2 separate regions of the Homo sapiens genome follow, and region 2 is linked to region 1. The links come from fine-mapping of genetic effects on gene expression. Tissue or cell type: whole blood. Region 1 holds a variant in brackets; the other region holds the start of a gene. All regions are shown on one strand. Distances are between the middles of the regions.

The links. PIP is the estimated chance that this variant, and not a neighbour inherited with it, causes the effect.
Region 2: it holds the start of MINPP1, and the variant in region 1 is fine-mapped to the expression of MINPP1 in whole blood (TOPMed, PIP 0.93).

The regions. Positions count from the first base shown.
Region 1 is chr10:87,035,872-87,044,131 of GRCh38, forward strand. It overlaps the pseudogene RNU6-529P. Among named protein-coding and RNA genes, the nearest start is that of FAM25A, 20 kb to the left of the region's middle. The variant G/C (reference allele first, on the strand shown) is at 3,239.
Region 2 is chr10:87,500,055-87,508,054 of GRCh38, forward strand. MINPP1 (multiple inositol-polyphosphate phosphatase 1) reads left to right here and starts at 4,839. Exons shown (of 5, transcript NM_004897.5): 1 at 4,839-5,498. The coding sequence starts at 4,862. It overlaps MIR4678 (microRNA 4678), which reads left to right and starts at 3,827; the gene lies at 3,827-3,900. It overlaps LOC112268064 (a long non-coding RNA gene), which reads right to left and starts at 4,780. Exons shown (of 2, transcript XR_002957094.2): 1 at 4,281-4,780; 2 at 1-764. RefSeq lists a cis regulatory region at 564-948 and enhancers at 4,809-4,898, 5,059-5,118.

The sequences.
Region 1 (8,260 bases):
AATATCCATCTTAAAACTGCTTTGGTTGTGTCCCAGAGATTCTGGTATGTTGTATCTTTTTTTCTCATTCATTTCAAAGAACTTCTTAATTTTGGCCTTAAGTTAATTATTTACCCAGAAGTCATTTAGGAGCAGGTTATTCAGTTTCCATGTAATTGTATGATTTTGAGTGAATTTCTTAGTCTTGATTTCTAATTTGATTTCACTATGGGCTGAGAGGTTGGTTGTTATGATTTGAGTTCTTCTGCATTTGCTGAGGAGTATTTTGTGTATGATTCTGTGACTGATTTTGGAGTATGTGTCATGTGGTGATGAGAATGTATATTCTGTTATTTTTGTGAGGAGAGTTCTGTAGATGTCTATCAAGTCCATTTGATCCAGTGCTGAGTTCAAGTCCCGAATATCATTGTTAATTTTCTGCCCCAGTGATGTATCTATTACTGTCAGTGAGATGTTAAAATCTCCCACTACTATTGTGTGGGAGTCTAAGTCTCTTTGAAGGTCTCTAAGAACTTGCTTTATGAATCTGGGTGCTCCTGTTTTGGATGCATAAATACTAATACTTAGAATAGTTAAGTTTTCTTGTTCAATTGAACACTTTACCATTATGTAATGCCCTTCTTTGTGTTTTTTGGTCTTTGTTGGTTTGTAAAGTTTGTTTTGTCTGAAATTAGGATTGCAGCCCCTGATTTTTTTCTGTTTTCCATTTGCTTGGTAGATTTTTCTCCATCCCTTTATTTTGATCCAGTGGGTGTCATAGCATGTGAGATGAGTCTCTTGAAGATGGCATACCAATGAGTCTTAATTCTTTATCCAGATTGCCATGGTGTGCCTTTTAATTGGGGCATTTAGCCCATTTACATTCAAGGTTAGTATTGATATGTGTGGATTTGATCTTGTCATCCTGATGTTAGCTGGTTATTACGCAGTCTTGTTTGTGTGGTTGCTTTATGCTGTCACTGCTCTGCATACTTCAGGATGTTTTTGTAGTGGCTGGTATGGTCTTTCCCTTTCACATTTAGTGCTTCCTTCAGGAGCTTTTGGGCAGATCTTGTCATAACAAATTCTCTCAGCATTTGCTTGTCTGAAAAGGATCTTATTCCTCCTTCACTTATGGAGCTTAATTTGGCTGGATATGAAATTCTCAGTTGGAATTTCTTTTTATTAAGAATGTTGAAGATAGGCTGCCTATCTCTCCTGGCTTGTTGGGGTTCTACTGAGAGGTCCACTGTTAGCCTGATGGGGTCCTTTTGTAGGTGACCTGACCTTTCTCTCTAGCTGCCTTTAACTTTTTTTTTTCATTTTGACCTCAGAGAATCTAATGAGTATGTGTCTTGGGGATGATCTTCTTGTGAAGTTTCTTACTAGGGTTCTCTGCATTTCCTGAATTTGAATGTCGGTCTCTCTAGCTAGGTCGGGGAAGTTCTCATAAATGATATCCTGGAATACACTTCCCAAGTTGCTTATACTCTCTCTATCTCTTTCAGGGACACCAGTGAGTCGTAGATCTGGTCTCTTTACATAATCCCACATTTCTCAGAGGTTTTGTTTCTTCCTTTTAATTTTTTTTTCTTCATTCTTGTCTGCGTGTCTTCTTTCAGAAAGCCAGTCTTCAGCCCCTGAGATACTTTCTTCCACTTGGTCTATTCTGCTATTAATGTAATTCTTGTAGTGTGTTTTTTAGCTCTATCAAGTTGGCTACATCCTTTTTTGTACTGGCTATTTTTTCTGTTGGCTCTTGCATTGTTTTATCCTGATTCTTAGCTTCCTTAGATTGGCTTTCAACATACTCCTGCATATCGAAGATCTTCATCCCAATCCATATTCTGAATTCTATTTCTGTCATTTCAGCCATCTCAGCCTGGTTCAAACCCCTTGCTGGAGAGGTGGTGCAGCCGTTTGGAGGAAAGAAGGCACTCTGGTTTTTTGAGTTGTGAGAGTTCTTGCACTGGTTCTTTTTTATCTTTGCAGGGTTATTTTCCTTCAATCTTTGAAGCTGCTGACCTTTGGATGGGTTTTTTTCCTTTTATCCTATTTGACGACCTTGAGGGTTTCACTGTGGTATAAGGTGGATTCAGTCAACTGGCTTCATTTCTGGAAGAGTTTAGAGGACCAACACTGAGCTCCCAACTCCTGGACTGTGTGCTGTAACCCTGGAGGACTTGTATCGAGCCCCAACTTTGTTCTGTCTCCTCAAGGATAAGAATCCACTGCACTGGGTGAGCCAAGATGCTCTCAGACTGCTGGTCACTACACTCTAACGGGTGATGTCAGCCAAAGCTTTTAGTAGTGCAGAGACAGTGGAATCCATCCCCATTTGCATGTGCCAGCGGCAGTGGCAGCAGCAGCATGGCTGCAGTAGGGTGCTAGTGGGTGCTGGCATGCCTGCCTCTGTGGCAGCATTTACCACAGCAGCAAAGGGAACACAGCTGGCAGGGTGGGGGCCCCTTCTGGTGTCTGTGCATGTGGTTGCACCAGTAGTGGTGTTGACATGGCAGCAGGGTGCTGGAGAGCGCTCAGGGTAGGGAAGAGTCTGCTGTTCTCTGTGCCTAGTTTCACTTGGAGCAGTGCTGGCAAATGGGTGGGGCACTGGCAGGGGAGGGGTTGGGGCTGGCTGGCTCTGTGCCCACCAAGGCTCTGACTACAGTGGTGGTCAGAAGGGAGAGTGGAGCAGACTGCACTCCTGCTGCAGTACTTGCAGGGCAGGGTGTACACATACATGCAGGCTGGCAGGACAAGATAAGCAGAAGCTGCCCATGCACACACATGTTGGCAAAGCCATGTGCGGTGTTACCGTGGGCCTTGGGGAAGATGCAGTGTAGAAGGAGTGTGTGCACTGGTGTGTGGCCCTGGGAGCTGCCCCGGGGGAGCTCTTCGCATTTCAGGCATGGTCCACCAGCACTGGAGCTATGATGTGGGCCCCTAGGGTGCTCAAGGCTTCCCTGCAATCAGGCATGGCCAGGCTGGACCCTCAGAGAGGCCAGCGAACCAAGGAGTGCTCAGGTAGGACCAGCCCTGCCTGATGAGTAAGACTGCATTGCGAAGTTCAGGCCCAGTGGTTCCCTTAGGGTGAAAGTCTCCTATGGGAGCAAGTTGAGTCTAGGGGTGTGGCTGTCCTTGGCTGTGCTCCACTACAGCTGCTCTCACACCAAACCCTCTGGGTTCATCAGCTGGCTGCTGCCCTGGCTGCTTCTCCAAGCTTCTCTCCCTTGCAACTCTACTGTCCATGATGCTCAAA[G/C]GATCTCCTGCCAGGATTCCAGAGGCTGGACATAAGAAGCATTGCTTCTTGCAAGTTCAACTCACCCTTTCCCCCAGTCATTGGGGGCCAGGAATGAGTTCCAGGGTGCAGTAGCCCCATGCAGGCCTCCCAGCTTACTACCCCTTTAGCCTAGCTTCTGTGTCTTCCCTCCATCTACTCTCAGTGCCTTCCCTCTGAAGATCCATTAGTAGTGCACCAGTCAAATCAGTCCCTCGGTGGCAGCTGTTGCACCTGGCTGCATCTAGTTGGCCATCTTAACATGTATATTTCCATAACTAATTTTTGTGTGTTGATTTTGTACCCTGCAATTTTGCTGAATTAAAATTAGCTCTAGTAGGTTTATTTGTTTGTTTGCTTTTTGGCTCTGTCACCCAGGCTGGAGTACAGTGGTGCAATCTTTGGCTCACTATAACCTCCACCTCCTGGCTTAAGTGATCTTCCCACCTCAGCCTTCTGAGTAGCTGGGACTACAGGTGTGAGCCACCACACCTTGCTAGTTTTTGTACTTTTTGTAGAGATGGGGTTTTGCCATGTTGCCCAGGCTGGTCTTGAACTCTTGGGCTCAAGCAACCTGCCTGCATTAACATCCCAAAGTGTTGGGATTACAGGTGTGAGCCACCATGCCTGGCCAGTAGGTTTATGTATGGGTATATGTGTGTGTATGTATTCTCTTTTCTTGTTATAGGTCTATTGAGATTTTCTATTTCTTCTTAAGTCATATTTGGTAATTTGTGTGTTTCTAGGAATCTACATTTTATCTAGATGTCTAATTTTTGGAATATAATTTTTCATAGTATTGTCTTAAAAATCTTTAAAATTTCTGTAAGATCAGTAATAATGTCACCATTTTCTTTCTGATTTTAGTTATTTACTATTCTCTTTTTTTTTCTGAGTCAGTCTAACTAAAGGTTCATCAAATTTGTTTTTTTTTCCCATGAACCAACTTTTTGTTTTGACAATTATTTTTCCTCTATTCTCTATTTCATTCTGCTTTAATCTCTAGTATTTCCTTCCTTCAGCTGGCTGTAGGTTTAGTTAGCTCTTCTTTTACACCTTAGGTCAAGCTTGTCCAACATGCAGCCCAGGATAACTTTGAATGCAGCCCAACACAAATTCATAAACTTTACAAATAACAGAAAACAGTATGAGATTTTCTTGAGGTTTTTTTTTTTTTTTTTTTTTAGTTCATCACCTATTGTTAGGGTTAGTGCATTTTATGTGTGGCCCCGTAGCAGGACGAGCTGCAGACAAAACTACTCAGACACTGAGTTAAAGAAGGAAGGGGTTTATTCGGCTGGGGGCATCAGCAAGACTCCTGTCTCAAGAGCGAAGCTCCTTAAGTGAGCAATTCCTGTCCCTTTTAAGGGCTCACATCTCTAAGGGGGTGCGCATGAGAGGGTCGTGATCGATTGAGCAAGAAGCAGGTGTGTGACTGGGGGCTGCATGCCCTGGCAATTAAGAACAAAACAGGACAGGGATTTTCACAGTGCTTTTCTATACAATGTCTGTAATCTATAGATAACATAACCGATTAGGTCAGGGGTCGATCTTTAACTACCAGGCCCAGGGTGTGGCGCTGGGCTGTCTGCTTGTGGATTTCATTTCTGCCTTTTAGTTTTTTCTCTTTCTTTCTTTGGAGGCAGAAACTGGGCATAAGACAATATGAGGGGTGGTCTCCTCCCTTAGCCCAAGACAATTATTCTTCCAATGTGGCCAGGGAAACCAAAAGGTTAAATACCCCTTAGGTGTAAAGTTAGGTTGTTAATTTGAAATCGTTCCTTTTATCTTTTCTTTTTTTTTTTTTTTTTGAGATGGAGTCTTGCTCTGTCACTAGGTTTGAGTACAGTGTGCGATCTTGGCTCACTGCAACCTCTGTCCCCCGGGTTCAAGTGATTCCCTTGCCTCAGCCTCCTGAGTAGCTGGGAATACAGGTGCGCACCACCATGCCCAGCTAATTTTTTGTATTTTAGTAGAGACGGGGTTTCACCATATTGGCCAGGATGGTCTCGATCTCCTGAACTCATGACCCACCCACCTCGGCCTCCCAAAGTGTCAGGATTATAGGTGTAAACCACCGTGCCCGGTCTTTTTTTTTTTTTTTAATAAAATAAATATGAAACACTTCACGAATTTGCATGTCATCCTTGCACAGGGGCCAGGCTAATCTCTGTATTGTTCCAATTTTAGTGTATGTGCTGATGAAGCAAGCATGAGATTGTCCTTTTTTAATGAAAGTATTTATTATTATTATTATTTTTTGAGATGGAGTCTCGCTCTGTCGCCCAGGCTGGAGTGCAATGGCATGATCTCGGCTCACTGCCAGCTCTGCCTCCTGGGTTCACGCCATTCTCCTGCCTCAGCCTCCGGAGTAACTGGGACTACAGGCGCCCGCCACTGCACCTGGCCAATTTTTTTTTTTTGTATTTTTAGTAGAGATGGGATTTCACTGTGCTAGCCAGGATGGTCGCGATCCACCCGCCTCGGCCTCCCAAAGTGCTGGGATTACAGGCATGAGCCACCGTGACCGTCTGATGTAAGTATTTCCAGCTATAAGTTTCACTGAGTACCCCTGTCACACCATCTCATAAATTTTGGTATCTTGCATTTTATTTTAATTCATCTGAAAGTATTTCAATTTCTCTAGTCATTTCTTCTTTGAGCCACTGGTTAAGAATGTTGTTTAACTTTCACTTACTTGCAAATTCTCCAGGTTTTCCTGTTATTGACTTCTAGCTTCATTACACTTTTGTTGGAAAAGACACTTTGCATAATTTTTTTTTTTTTGAGACAGAGTCTCAGTCTGTTGCTCAAGGTGGAGTGCAGTGGTGTGATCTCGGCTCATTGCAACCTCTGCCTCCCAGATTCAAGCAATTCTCCTAGCTCAACCTTCCAAGTAGCTGGGATTACAGGTGCCTGCCTCCACTCCCAGCTAATTTTTTGTATTTTTTATTAGAGTTGGGGTTTTGCCATGCTGGCCAGGCTGGTTTCGAACCCCTGACCACAGGTCATCCACCCACCTTGGCCTCCCAAAGTGCTGGGATTACAGGCATGAGCCACCAAGCCTGGCCTGTTTTTTTTTTTTTTTTTTTTTTTTAAGACAAGTCCCGCTCTGTCCTGCAGGCTGGAGTGTAGTGGTATGATCTCAGGTCACTGCAGCCTCTGCCTTCCAGGCTCAAGCCATCCTCCTGCCTGAGCCTCCTGAGTAGCTGGGGCTACAGGCGTTCACCACCACTACAGCCGGCTAATTTTTTTATTTTTTATTTTGGTAGAGACAGGGTTTCACCATGTTGCCCAGGCTGGTCTTGAACTCCTGGGCTCAAGTGATCCGCCTGTCTCAGCCTCACAAAGTGCTGGGATTACAGCTGTGAGCCACCACACCTGGCCCTTTGTATAATTTTGACCTTTTAAAATTTATTGAGAATTGTTTTGTGGCCTAACATATGATTTATCATGGGGAATGTTCCATGTGCACTTGAGAGGAATATATATTCTGCTCTTGTTAGATGGATATCTTTCCATATGTCTGTTAGGTCTATTTGGTTTAGTGTGTTGTTCAATTCCTCTAGTTCCTTACTGATTTTGTCTAGATGTTCTATTTACTATTGAAGGTGGGGTATTGACTGGACACAGTAGGTCAGGCCTGTAATCCCAGCACTTTGGGAGGCTGAGGTGGGCGAATTGCTTGAGCTTGGGCATTTGAGACCAGCCTGGGCAACATGATGAAACCCCATCTCCACAAAAAATACACAGATTGGCCGGGTGTGGTGGCGTGTGCCTATAGTTCCAGCTACTGGGGAGGCTGAGGTGGGAGAATCGCTTGAGTCTGGGAGGCAGAGGTCGCAGTGAGCTGTGATAGAGTCACTGCACTCCAGCCTGTGTTGAAGTCTCTGTTATTGTAAAACTATTTCTTCCTTCAATTTTGTTAGACTGTGCATTTTAGAGCCCTTTTTTTTTCTTTTTCAGTTCATACGTATTTATAATTGTTACATCTTCTTGTGATTTGACTCTCTTACCAACATACGATGTCTTTCTGTAACATTTTTTGGCTTAAAATCTATTTTGTCTGGTATTAGTATAGCCACCCCAGCTCTCTTTTGGTTACTATTTGCATGGATTATCTCTTTCCGTCTTTTCATTTTGAAACAATTTGTGTCTTGGGTCTACAGTGAGTATTTTGTAAGTTGCATATTTGGATTGTGTATTACATCATTTAAAAAAAATCCATTCTGCCGATCTTTCCATTGGTCAGATTATTTACATTTAAAGTGATTACTGAAACAAAAAAGTTAATTGACCGGCATGGTGGCTCCCGCCTGGAGGTGAGGCTGCAGTGAGCCATGATCGCACCACTGCTCTTCAGCCTGGGGGACAGAGAGATTGACTCAAAAACAAAAAACAAAAACTTACTTATGGTTGGACTCAGGCCTGTAATCCTATCACTTTGGGATGCTGAGGTGGGCAGATTGCTTGAGCCCAGGCGTTTGAGACCAGTCTGGGCAACATAGCAAGACTCCTGTCTCTACAAAAAATAGAAAAATAAGCTGGGCATGGTGGTGCACACCTGTGGTTCCAGCTACTCAGGAGGCTGAGGTGGGAGGATCAGCTGAGCCTGCGGAGGTCAAGGTTGTAGTGAGCCGTGATTGTGCCACTGCACTCCAGCCTGGGCAACAGAGCTAGACCCCGTCTCAAAAAAACCCCAAACAGGCCGGGTGCAGTGGCTCATGCCTGTGCCTGGCACTTTGGGAGGCCGAGGCAGGTGGGCCACTTGAGGCCAGGAGCTCGAGAGTAGCCTGGCCAATGTAGTGAAACCCTGTCTCTACTAAAAATACAAAAAATTACCTGGCTGTGGTGGTGGGCGCCTGCAATCCCAGCTACTCAGGAGGCTGAGTATCACTTGAACTTGGGAGGCAAAGGCTGCAGTGAGCTGAGAATGAAACACTGCACTCCAGCCTGAGTGACAGAGCAAGACTCTGTCTCAGACAAACCCCAAAAAAGAAAAAC
Region 2 (8,000 bases), 460 kb after region 1:
GGCTCACGCCTGTAATCCCAGCACTTTGGGAGGCCGAGGCGGGCAGATCAAGAGGTCAGGAGATCGAGACCATCATGGCTAACACGGTGAAACCCCGTCTCTACTAAAAAATACAAAAAATTACCCAGGCGTGGTGGTGGGCGCCTGTAGTCCCAGCTACTCGGGAGGCTGAGGCAGGCAAATGGTGTGAATCCGGGAGGCGGAGCTTGCAGTGAGCCGAGATCGCGCCACTGCACTCCAGCCTGGGTGACAGAGCGAGAGACTCTGTCTCAAAAAAAAAAAAAAAAAAAAAAAAGAGTATTGATAGTTTAAACCTACTACAATTTTGCATCTAGTTTCTCAAGTAGTTCTGTGGATTTAGAACCAACATTTGCTGAGGGGAAAGAATTACCAACATCAAAGTCCTAGGATGTGTCAGGGCACCAGAAGAGAAGTTTTGTCACTGTAAAATAACTCTCTTGGCAGAGCATGATAGAGACTGTAAACAGCAGGTTACTTCAATGGTTATGTGCGATTCAGTGAAGATCTCTACATTAATTGAAGCACAACTCAAGCAATTCAATGTAGCTCTGATATGCTGGAGAACAATCTAGCAGTTAGCTATCAGCGGTGGTGTGGTTCCTTTTAAGCAAAGGTAGCTTGTAGTCTTCAGACTTGTGACCTGTGCAGCCTCCACATTCAAGTGAGGTTAAAGGGACTGCTGTTGGAACATGGATCACTCCAGGCCTATCTGTACACATGGACCCCTCTTCTGTTGGCTTCCACTGCAACAAAAAGCCAATAAACACTAAATCAACATCTGGCAACTGTTAAAAGAGGAATGATGCAACAGCAGGGCAGAAAGATAAGAAAGCTCAAACTTTCCTGGCATAGGCACAAAGTTCGTTGCTTAATGTAGTTATGAGATAATAAATATCTATGAAAAACTATTTGTCAGTTTATTTAAGAGAGACGTGATAATAAGAAACCCTTTAATTCTGCTTAATAAAAGCAACTGATATTTATTTGGGGGCAGAAACTATATAAAGTCTTTATATAAGCTGTTTCGTTTAATCCTCTCAACAGTCTCATGGCTAGGTATTATTATCCCCACTTTACAATGAAAAAGAATGGTGGCAAAATAATTTAATTTTTTAAATATTTCACAGGTAATAAGAGATGAAGCTGGAATCTGAAAACCAGAAAGTCTAACTTCTGAGACCATGTTCTTAGTATTGTATATGCTTACATAGAGAGCCTTGCTGTTTCCCTACAGAATTTAGCTGTTTCCTTTCCTTTATTGTTTCATCCCCAGAAAACTATCTTAGTAACCTCTTTAAAAGTAAAGTAGATGGCTGTTAACTTAAAATACTATATATGACACCATGTAATCTTTTTTTTTCTTTTTGAGATGGAGTTTTACTCTTGTTGCCCAGGCTGGAGTGCAATGGCGTGATCTCAGCTTACTGCAACCTCCACCTCCCAAGTTCAAGCAATTCTCCTGCCTCAGCCTCCCAAGTAGCTGGTATTACAGGCGTCCACCACCACACCCAGCTAATTTTTTTGTACTTTTAGTAGAGATGGGGTTTCAACATGTTGGCCAGGCTGGTCTCGAACTCCTGACCTCAGGTGATCCACGCACCTCAGCTTCCCGAAGTGCTGAGATTACAGGCATGAGCCACTGTGCCTGGCTGACACCATGCAATCTTAAAAGCTGAATGACTATTTTTGAAATCCTATGGATAATCTGGCAAAAATAATTGAGCTTATCCTTTCGTATAGTGGATTGATTAGAAATGAAGTTCTACTCAAGACCCATTAATGTAGGACCATCAAGTTAAACTTTTTTTCTTTTCCACTCTGAAAAAATACAACAGATAATGTTTGCTTCTAAATAAAATTGCAGAACCACTAGCAATTCATTCTCAGTTGGATCTCCAGAGCTGACCATACAAACTTCTACTTGTTTCTCCCATTCCTCTTAGTTGTCAATCCTTTCCCATTACTTTCCCATTTCTCTCAGTTGCAAATCCAAACCATTTTCACATTTCAAGACTTAATTCCTATTCCCCCATCTTTCAAACTTGTCTCCTATGTTACTGTGGAAACTGAGGCCATCAGACTTGAATTCTATGAACTCTCTCCTGCCAGATCTACAAATTTATCCCCATGTTCACCCATCCTTCTAACATTCTCTTAGAAGATAAGGTCTCATCTCCTTCTGGCCCAAATCAAATTCTCTACCTGTGTTTTTGGTTCTGTCCTCTCCCATCTCTGCAAGGACCTTGAACCATTAATTTTCCTTTCTGCCTCTTGTATTGTGTTAGATTTGCCAAATATATTGCTCCCATACCCACAATTTCTTATGAGGGGAGGTGATGTTCCCATGATCTCTGCAAAGGAATAGCCATGTTTCGCACTATGCAAACTTCTCTGTACTACATGATTGGACCAAGTGGGCACCTATGTCAAAGGGCATCCAATTTACAGAGTGCCCAGATAATTCAGACATGGTCTGGCATGAAATGAGGAGCACGGCCTGTGACCTTTTTAAATTTTTTCAAAGGCTGCTTAGTGCTCTAAGAACAAGATATCCATTTTAAGTGAAATGAGTGGATTTTTATTATTAGAAAAGTTATGAAATGATCTTTGATGCATGTGTTGCCTGTGAAAGTCATTCACTTTAATGTTCAGTGGGAGTAAGTGTAATCCATGTAATTGCTAGAAAGCTAGGCATCTTAGCACAGGAATAATCACACTGAACATTAGTAATGATAAAAATATCATTTATAGCGGCCTATCATATGGATTTTAAATACATCATCTCTGTCATGATAATCCCATGATATAGGTTCTAATATTACCAATTTTCAGATAAAAAAAAAAAACTAAGGCCCAGAGAACTTGGGTCACTCAATTAATAAGCAGCAGAGCTAATTAGAGTCTGGGTCCAAAGCTTAAGCACTCTTCGTCTTCTTTATATTTGGCTTTTTCCTAGCCAAAAACATGGAGGCATTGCTTACTTTTACTTTATCATTGTTATCTTGGCATAACATCAAAATAATTAGGAGCTGATATACCTAAGTGTATAAAACAGGATAAAATTAATTGATGAGGAATTAGATAAGGAAAATAAAATCAAACTAGGGGCAAATTTCATGTATAAAAATGTGTACTGTGCCATACATTTTGTAAGTGGAGTCTCTAAAGATTGCTTCATAAGGAAGAAGTGAATAATGACTTTGGGAACACTTGGTAACCCCTAGGACTCAAAAGATTGGGTGTGAGAAGTTATTAGTAAGCATATGTATTAGGCAAAATACAGTGAGATGAACCTGGAACAAATGCTCGCTGAATGCACTTAGAAATATTATCAGGCGACTCAGCCTATAGAGCATACGGGTTAGAATGTCTATTTTAAGAAGGAGCGGATATTTACTAAATGCTAATTTGAGCAAAGTTCTACAAAAATATCACTGACCATGAATATTCAGGCATTGACATGCTACAAAATAGCATATCGAAAAGAACATCTGTTGCCCTAAAGATGGTTTCCTGCACAGAACGTCTCCAAATTTTCAGCATTCATAGGCTGGCCCCGTTTCTTCTTGGTTAACATTTAGAGGCACGCCTAAACTTAGAGGAACACCTCTCTAAACCAAGGAGACACTTAAAGAGAAAAGGAGTAAAGATGGTGATGGGCTTATAAAGAGCAATGTAATAGTGTCTTTGAAGCAAAAGCTAACTTAATGAAAACGTGGTCCCAATTTCCTTAAATCTGGATCACCGTACGACTTCTGTAATACTTATTATTTCCCCAGCTGGCAAATAAACTGGAGTTCAAGTGGGAAAAAACAAGGTATTGTTCAGACTTATGATTTTTGGGGTCAAAGATTCTGAGCAATAACCTATTAAAAAACCCAGCTTTTGATTTGAGTATGTAAGTAAGTACATGGGAGGAACGTATGGATCTGGAGTGGTGGTAAATACAGAGCATGTTTGCTTCGCAAAGCAGATTAGCTCATACTTAATAATAGAGTAAATCTGTTGGGCCATGACTCAATGCACCCAAATTCTCTAGATTGCTATGTCTCTACTCGCTAAGCCTTCGGGAACAACAAGCACAGAACTTTTAGGGTGCTGTCTCACTGATGTCGGCGTTAGCTCTGGTAGTCCAGGTCAAGATTATACCAAAGATTCAGGACTTAAATTCCTGCAGAATGTAAGCCCCTTTCCAAGTTCTCTGCTTTACTGTATCCTGTTTATTTTCAAACTCAAATGGAAAAAAACGAAACAAAAACCTTGGGCTTCAAGAGGCATCCTGCCGCAAGGCCCAGCGATGTGAATTTTCAACAACCGTCTCAGGCAGATTTCATGCTGATGGTTCAGGCACTAAACTTTGAAAAACACAGTATCACAGAGTAGGGATGGTGATGTAAGAGTCATCTGTAAAAGCTGTGCTGTTTTGGCAGCCTGGGAGGCTAAGGTTTAGTCTAGGCGACTAAGGTTTAGTCCGGGCTGTATTCACACCCAAAACAACTAAAAAAGCGGAGGAGTCTTTGAGTCAATCCCTGAAGCTCCGGCTAAGAGGAAACTCGCCCACGCTCCAGGGCAGCGACGCCGGCTCCACCTCAGCCACGGCTGTCTCAAGCTTCTCGGGGTTTTCCGCCGGCTCCACCCGAGCCACAAGTCTACAGGACTCCTCGGAGCTTTCCGCCGGGACGCAAGACCCACCGCCAGAGGTTGGTACCTCCTAGAGAACAGCGAAGCGCATCCCGAGGGCCGCCGGCCGGAAGCGCCCTCCAGACCCGCCCCCTGCCCTCCGGAGCCGGAAGCTGGGCATCTGCAGCTGGCTCGGCGCACTCCACTGACCGTCCCGACGATGCTACGCGCGCCCGGCTGCCTCCTCCGGACCTCCGTAGCGCCTGCCGCGGCCCTGGCTGCGGCGCTGCTCTCGTCGCTTGCGCGCTGCTCTCTTCTAGAGCCGAGGGACCCGGTGGCCTCGTCGCTCAGCCCCTATTTCGGCACCAAGACTCGCTACGAGGATGTCAACCCCGTGCTATTGTCGGGCCCCGAGGCTCCGTGGCGGGACCCTGAGCTGCTGGAGGGGACCTGCACCCCGGTGCAGCTGGTCGCCCTCATTCGCCACGGCACCCGCTACCCCACGGTCAAACAGATCCGCAAGCTGAGGCAGCTGCACGGGTTGCTGCAGGCCCGCGGGTCCAGGGATGGCGGGGCTAGTAGTACCGGCAGCCGCGACCTGGGTGCAGCGCTGGCCGACTGGCCTTTGTGGTACGCGGACTGGATGGACGGGCAGCTAGTAGAGAAGGGACGGCAGGATATGCGACAGCTGGCGCTGCGTCTGGCCTCGCTCTTCCCGGCCCTTTTCAGCCGTGAGAACTACGGCCGCCTGCGGCTCATCACCAGTTCCAAGCACCGCTGCATGGATAGCAGCGCCGCCTTCCTGCAGGGGCTGTGGCAGCACTACCACCCTGGCTTGCCGCCGCCGGACGTCGCAGGTGACCCCCCGGGCGGCCCGTGTGCTGTCCCGGTCCTCCCACCCGCCCTGGATGCTCTCCCGCCTCCCCCAGACCCTGGGCTTTTCCGATGCCCCCCAGTTCTCTTTCCTCTTTTCCCAAGCCATCATCCCTCGGGCTACGTCCTCCCTGTCGAGGGATATTACAGACTTGGCTATCTCTTTTTCCCCTTACACGTATGTTCATTTATTAATTCATCAGGTGTAAATTCAGCACCTTGTACTCGCTGCCTGCTTTAGTAGAGTTGGGGATCCAACAGGAAAGGGGACAGACGAGGTCTCCCGCAATTTTTGCGCTCCCGTTCCCAAACTGAATTGCCCCTTCGAGCGCCAACCCATCCCTTCCCCCTTCCCTGGCGTCTAGTTTCACAATTGGGCGCACGTTTTAAAAAACAGAATCTAGAATTTTCTTCCTCGGGCTTTGCTTCCGATACTAGTTTTTCCTTCTTTCTTTTTTTTTTTTTTTAAACTCATCATCTTTTTCAGATGACAGTTTTAGACCTACACCCTGTTTTAGGAACCTGATCTCAAGCCTTTGTGTCCTCCTTTTTTCTTCTGTTTTGTTCATGTTTTTACTGTAGCGTTCCCATCGTTGTAGCTGTGGTCCGTGGTCACAAGCAGTAACAACTCATTTATTCCATTAATTACACTTTTTCGAAATTTGAGAAATCATCTAGTAAGGCCCCGTTATTTCACAGGTGAAGAACCCGAGCCCAAGAGTATGCCTTCTTAATTGTCTTTCTCTAAGGTCTAGTATCCAAGTCTTCTGTTTTCCTAGAATGGTTCTTTTTCTCTTAGAAAATGTTGTAATAGTTACAAATAATAATGATAGCATACACCTCATGCCTATTGTATGCCAGGTATGCCTCACATTTATTTTACAAAATCCTTACAACCACAATCTGGAGTTGATAGTATTTTCCCCTTATCTCAAAGATGAGGAAATTGATACACGAACACATTAAATAATTTGCCCATTTTCATACAGCTAGCTGTGGACCCAGGAAATCTGATTCAGAGCTTGCTTTCTTAGCCATTATGCTATACTGCCTCCATTTGTCCAATAACATACCTAATAAGAATAAAAACATGTAACATTTTTGTACCACAGAGATGAGCAAGCATTAATAGTTTCTTGATCACTTTTAAGGCCAGAATTGAAGTGAGGATTATTGTTTAGCTTCAAAGCCCAAGTGAAAAATTAGAAGTAGGCTGGTTTGTAATTTCTTCTGTAGCTGTTGAACAGTGAAACCATCTGTAAGGGATTTCTCCACTGATTCTGTGTCATGTTATTGTGGGTAATTCAGTTAGCTGACTTGTGTCTAATTACTTGTTGAACTGTGTTTTTTTTTAAATATATACTTTTTCCATTAGCATGAGTGAAAATTCCTCATAAATCTGTTAAATTAACAGAATGGTGAAAGCAGAACATATTTTAATATAACACAATATCTATAGCGACTTCCTGGAACAAGTGAATTTTTGTTCTCAGATGGCATTGCGAAGACTGGCATTTGACTCTCAGTACAGAGCCAGGGATGAAAATACTACAGTTCAGAATAAGCCCACTCCTGACCGTTTTCAGTGTCAGATAGCAAACCCTTTGCCTAGCCACTTTATTATTCTCTATAGACAATAGTTTTGCCTATTATGTACATCTGGTCTTTTGAGGGAGTCTGCTGAATTAGATTTGTAGTTTTGTAGAAACAGAACAATGCCTTTGTTTTTGTTTAAAGACTAGCAATAATTAGATAGTAACAAGGATAAAATACCCAGATGCACTTGGGAAATTATATTTTAGTGTACACAGAAAAAAGGTGACAAAGTTCGCTTATTTTCCTAGTCAAGATATTTTCTTAAGAATTGCAATCCAGTTGACAAAGTGGGCAGAATTATCCATTTCAAGAGAAACAAACATACATACTGATTTTTTTTGCATACACATCCAAAGCCCAGATAAAACTATATTCAATTTTCTCATATTTTATGTACAAAAATGATATACTTGGTGTTCTTTTCGTGGTAAATTGTTGGAGAAATGATTGAAAAATGTGTGTTTTGAATATGACTGAAAAAAACGTAAAGGGCACACCAGTAGTTGAAGCATGATTATGAATGCTTCTCCAATACATATTTGTTGCCCAATTGGGGGCATAATGTAATTTATTAAATTTTATATAGAAAGTTATCTGGGGCTTCAGTTAAAAGATAAACCAATTCACAGGCCCAGCACAGTGAAGCACAGGAGACCCAAAACATCAGTGCGTTTTGTGCTGCTGTCAGTAGTTTTTGTCCAAAGCAGAATCTTTGTAAAGTAATACAGAGTTGGGAAGGTTAATTGAGAAAATAAAATACTCTGTTTAGACTTTGGCTTAGAGTGAAAAAATAGATTCCATATGTTGAATTCTCTCTCACCTTGTAAGTAGAAACTTTGCTGATTTTTAGTTTGCTTTCTAAAGTTTTCCGTGCCTGACAGAAACAGTAC